2 separate regions of the Homo sapiens genome follow, and region 1 is linked to region 2. Evidence: fine-mapped expression QTL. A gene starts in region 2. The other region holds a variant in brackets. All regions are shown on one strand. Distances are from middle to middle. Region 1 has its middle 31 kb from the start of LINC03018. Region 2 holds the start of CYP7A1 (cytochrome P450 family 7 subfamily A member 1).

Region 1 (2,936 bases), 780 kb before region 2:
TTTTTTGTGTGTGCCTGGAAGAGTTCCAGATCCTTTGGCCACAAGTCAGCATGGTCCCTACCCCCAGGAAGCCCCAAGCATGGTGGCACCTTAATACGACCCAGGCTGAAAGACAGGGTCAGGAAGGTCCTTAAACACCCATTTCCTAGTACACTTCCTGCTATTTTGTGAATTCCAAAAGAGTGCTGGATAGAGTTCCCATTTTCATATTTACATGAGAGGATAGATGGGTGAGATATTAATAAACAATTCTGGTTTTTATTAAATAGGGAATCCTTTCCCCATCAATAAATGGTGCTGGGAAAACTGGCTAGCCACATGTAGAAAGCTGAAACTGGATCCCTTCCTTATACTTTATACAAAAATTAACTCAAGATGGATTAAAGACTTAAATGTTAGACCTAAAACCATAAAAACCCTAGAAGAAAACTTAGGCAATACCATTCAGGACATAGGCATGGGGAAGGATTTCACGACTAAAACACCAAAAGCAATGGCAACAAAAGCCAAAATTGACAAATGGGATCTAATTAAACTAAAGAGCTTCTGCACAGCAAAAGAAACCACCATCAGAGTGAACAGGCAACCTACAGAATGGGAGAAAATGTTTACAATCTACTCATCTGACAAAGGGCTAATATCCAGAATTTACAAAGAACTTAAACAAATTTACAAGAAAAAATCAAACAACCCCATCAAAAAGTGGGCAAAGGATATAAACAGACACTTCTCAAAAGAAGACATTTATGCAGCCAACAGACACATGAAAAAATGCTCATCATCACTGGCCATCAGAGAAATGCAAATCAAAACCACAATGAGATACCATCTCACACCAGTTAGAATGGTGATCATTAAAAAGTCAGGAAACAACAGGTGCTGGAGAGGATGTGGAGAAATAGGAACACTTTTACACTGTTGGTGGGACTGTAAACCAGCTCAACCATTGTGGAAAACAGTGTGGTGATTCCTCAAGGATCTAGAACTAGAAATACCATTTGATCCAGCCATCCTATTACTGGGTATATACCCAAAGGATTATAAATCATGCTGCTATAAAGACACATGCACACGTATGTTTACTGCAGCATTATTCACAATAGCAAAGTCTTGGAACCAACACAAATGTCCAACAATGATAGACTGGATTAAGAAAATGTGGCACATATACACCATGGAATACTATGCAGCTATAAAAAATGATGAGTTCATGTCCTTTGCAGGGACATGGATGAAGCTGGAAACAATCATTCTCAGCAAACTA[G/T]TGCAAGGACAGAAAACTAAACACTGCATCTCCTCACTCATAGGTGGGAATTGAACAATGAGAACACTTGGACACAGGATCGGGAACATCACACACTGGGGCCTGTCGTGGGGTAGGGGGAGAGGGGAGGGATAGCATTAGGAGATATACCTAATGTAAATGATGAGTTAATGGGTGCAGCACACCAACATAACACATGTATACATATGTAACAAACCTGCACGTTGTGCACTTGTACCCTAGAACTTAAAGTATAATAATAATAATAATAATAAAGAATTCTGTTTTTTAGAACTTGACACCTAGGAAAACTCTATTGCTTTGTTCTCAGTGAGCCAATTTATGGAGCAAATAAACTCAGATATATTAGACTTTGGTAAGCAAAAGGTATGTGACCAAAAACATTTTTATTTGTTTATTTAGTCATTTATTCACTGGTCACTTATCTAACAAATATCTGTGGAGCAGCCATGTTTGCCTCTGGAAACCCCTCCATTGGCTTAAATAACATTCTCTTGTTCTTCCTTTACCTCTTTCTGTCCCTTCTTTTGATGGCCTTTCTTGGTGCATCCCTTAAATGCAGACACTCCCAACTGACCAGTCCTGTACACACGTGCCTCTCTTGACAGTCTCCATTGGGAATCTCATTAACTCTAAAGATTCTGCTGATCAATAAATGACTCCCACAACCATATGTCTAAGCCTGGCCCCTCTCCAATATTCAAGCCCCTCATTTCCAGTTTACAGCAGACACTTCCATCTGGAGATGTTGGTAGTTCAATCTCGATGTGTTGCAAATAATCACCTTTTTAAAAAACTTTCAAACGGTTCTTCCTGCTATGCTTCTGTTTGTGTTGAAGACATTTATCTGAGCTGATAATCAACTCCTGTCACTTCCATGCTCCCCACATCCAACCCACTGGAGAGTTCCAACTATTCTTACTTGGAGAAATACTTTTCCTCTACTCTGTCTTTTTGTCATCAATGGCATGATTGTGTTTCAGATCTCTTTATTTCTTCCCAGGGTTGGAGCAGTGACCTTCCAGCTGGCCTCTACTCTTCTCTCCTGGCCATCCATGTTATCCATGGCCTCTAGATTAATCTTTCTGAAGTACATATCTTGATGAGGATTCCCCAGTGAAAGTCTCTAATATTTTTTCTTTCCCAAAGGGCTTAAGTACATCTCCCCTAAACTCACGTGCTGAAGTCCTAACCCCCAGTGTCTCTGAATGTGACTGTTTTGGAGACAGGGCCTTTATAAAGGTAACTAAGGTTAAATGAAATAATTAGGATGGGTCCTAATCCAACATGACTGGTGTCCTTATAAGAAGGAGATTAGGACACAGACAAGCACAGAAGAAAGCTCATGTGAAGCACAAGGAGAAGATGGTCATTTGCAAGCCAAAGAGAGAGGCCTCAGGAAAAACCAAAGCTGCTGACATCTTGATCTTGAACTTGAACTGGAGTAATCACTCAAATCAGTCTCTCCAAAGTCTCAGAGGCTGGGGTTTTTATAGACAGTTTGGTGGGCAGGGGGCCAGGGAATTGGTACTGCTGACTGGTTGAGAATGAAATCATAGTGGTGTGGAAAACAGTCCTGGTGCACTGAGTTTGCCTCTGGGTGGGGCCACAGGACCAGCTGAGTCATGAGTCACGAGTCCAGGTGGGGTCA
Region 2 (2,936 bases):
GTTGGATGGGCCCTGCTCTTTTACTACAGTAATAGGTTATATTAACCTAGTAACATGATATGTTGGTGGAAAGGATTACTAAATCCATCCATTCATGCATCCGTCCATATACACATTCAACAAGCACCCGTCTACTATGTGCTCATCACTTTTCCCAGTGATACAGGCAAAAGGATTTACAAGACCAACAAGATTCTTGTTGTCAGTGCGGAAACAAAACTACATTCTAGTGTTTATCACTTTGCTAAGCATCATTTTTCTAAATATCTCAAAATGTTTCTTTTGATTATTTTCTTTAAAGACACAGATCACTGAATAAGGGAGGATTTCAGAACTGAGGTTTTGAAAATATTCCTAGTTTAAAGATATCTATATTATATTCTATAAGGATGGTTTCAGAGAAGAAGAATCTCATGTGAGAAATCAGCTTATTATAAAATGAAATTGAGTAAGATAAACACTGACGGAATCATCTATTGTAATTCAGTGCTCCTTTAAAATGTTTTTATTAGAACATGTAAACTTATTTTCCAACATAAACTTCTGTACCTCTTGATAGAATAATACAGTATAAAGTAATTACCTTTCTTTTCTTAGTTTGAAGATAAGTAGTTTAATTAAAAGTAAAAACTATCAGGCCTGAAAGAAACTGCAAAAGGCAGAAAACACATAGCAATCTACAAAGCTGAAAGATGGTTAGGGTTATTTTCTCTTTTTGAGATTGACATAGCAGAGAATATCTATATGCCTCCCCACAATTACTCCTTGAGCCAATTAGAAGTTAAATAAACTATGGTTCTGGATCTGACTGTATTTGTTTTTCTTGCATTCTTGAACCAGTTGTAAATAAATGAAATCGATGTCACATACACTCAGCAAACTTTCCCAATTCACCACAGTTGATTAACATTTATTTAAAAACAGTAATAGAATGATCAGCTCAGGCTCTATGCTCTTGTTCAGGCTTAGGCTGAGTCTATGCGATGCACAAGAATGAGCTTAAAAGAGAACATTTATTTAACAAGAGTATCTATTGAAGCCATGTGAGAGAAAGCAATCCTTTCCATTGTAGATTCCCACTTGCTACTTGTATCCTTACTAATCTGGGCTTCCTCTTTAGATACACATATAAATGTACATAGAGACCTTATACAATTTCTGTCAGTTATGTTTAACACCAATATACATTTATATATTACCATCGGTATATGCCAATACTAAAAAGGGAAGCTGTCATATGTCTTGTGAGATATAGTAAAAAAGATATTACTTTAAAAATTCAAATCAAATTTTTCATTTAAAAAATAAGGAAGATAATGCTAATATGTGTAAGTATAGAAAACCAAATTTACTGTATAAAAATGAAGGTAAAAAAATTAAATGGATGAATCAAAGAGCAATTTAAAGATAAAACATTACTTACCTTCTCCTAATTCCAAGAATAAGCCATAGACAACAGCATGCTGCTATAGCAATCCCCCAAATCAAAGATGTGGTCATCATTTTGCAAATCTAGGCCAAAATCTCTGAGGAAGAAAATCTCTGATTAGAAAGGGAAGGATGCCACTGAAAAGAGACTCAAGCTAGGCTTTTTATATACATAGTATCCAGATCCATTAACTTGAGCTTGGTTGACAAAGCAAACAATTAGCCATTTGTTCATTCTATTAGAAAAAAAAAAGTGGTAGTAACTGGCCTTGAACTAAGTCCACAGGTATCAGAAGTGGTTCCAAAGCAATCAGAGACCTGCAATACTTGATAAGTTGAAGGTCTCTCAAATATATGTTGACTTAACATTCGGACCTGGGGACAACAGCTAATATTAAGAGTTTGGTATGTGTAAAAAGAACAAATAAACCTGTTTAAGATGGGCATAGCTAATAAATACATAAACTATAATCATTTAAAGAAAGATAAGAATGAGTTATTCATCAAGCTTATAATTTGGTCTTGTTAACTTTTAAAGAAGAATTAATTTAGGTGCTTTGCCAGAGAGACGGTGATCAAGTTCAGAGGAAAGAGAACTGGGAAAAACATTTCTGCTGCTTCATGTTTCAGTGCTTTTATAAAATCATAGATATTTTACTACATATAGTAACATGTTACTCACCTAACATCCTCAAGAGAGTATTCTACATAAGTGCATCCTCTAGATAAATATAACTTATTGGAAGCATCAAAATTTTATCTATCATTCTTGTGACTAAAATGTTTATCAATGTTTCTAATTATTAAAGTAATAAATTTCATTTCAAGTAAGTTAAGACTAACTAAAACATATCTTGGTGGAAAGTGAACATCTATTAATAATTTACCTACCATGCTACTCCTTTACTCAGAAGTAACCACTAGTAACAATTTGGCATCTGTTCTTCCAAACTTTATTTCTGTGTACACAAAAATATTAGTTGAGTATTTATTACGTGCCAAGAACTCTTCAAAAGTATTCCAGTTGCAGGCATTAATAAGATAGGCAGATTTCCTAATCTAATGGAGATTCTATTCCAATGGAGAAAGGAGTAATAAAATACATGTTATGAAAAAAATAAAACATGGTATAGAAAGCTATGGGGGAATGAGGACAACTTTAGATATGATGATCAGAGATGGGCTCTCTGAAATTGTGACATTTGAGATCTGAATGACAAGAAGAGACTACTCATGTGAATATCAGAAGGAAGGATATTCCAGGAAGAGGAAGCAGCAAATGCAATGTCTTGAGTCAAGGATCAACTTGGTGAGTCTAAGAACCAAAAAGAAGGATGTATCCTACTGAAGCAGAGTGAATGAGAGTTCACAGAATTAAGACAAAAGAAGGTAGGCAACAGTACTGTGTGTGTATATATATGTATATAAACACACACACACATACACCCACAGTATTCTCTATATTTATACATGTGTGTATCTATATGTGTGTATAAATAATTATATTG

What was found. PIP is the estimated chance that this variant, and not a neighbour inherited with it, causes the effect.
Region 1: its variant is the best candidate, but not a certain one, in a credible set for the expression of CYP7A1 in spleen (GTEx, PIP 0.74).

The regions. Positions count from the first base shown.
Region 1 is chr8:57,713,877-57,716,812 of GRCh38, forward strand. No RefSeq gene overlaps it. Among named protein-coding and RNA genes, the nearest start is that of LINC03018, 31 kb to the right of the region's middle. The variant G/T (reference allele first, on the strand shown) is at 1,265.
Region 2 is chr8:58,498,596-58,501,531 of GRCh38, forward strand. CYP7A1 (cytochrome P450 family 7 subfamily A member 1) reads right to left here and starts at 1,568. Exons shown (of 6, transcript NM_000780.4): 1 at 1,424-1,568. The coding sequence starts at 1,503. RefSeq lists a silencer at 1-1,446, a promoter at 1,544-2,936 and an enhancer at 1,778-1,999.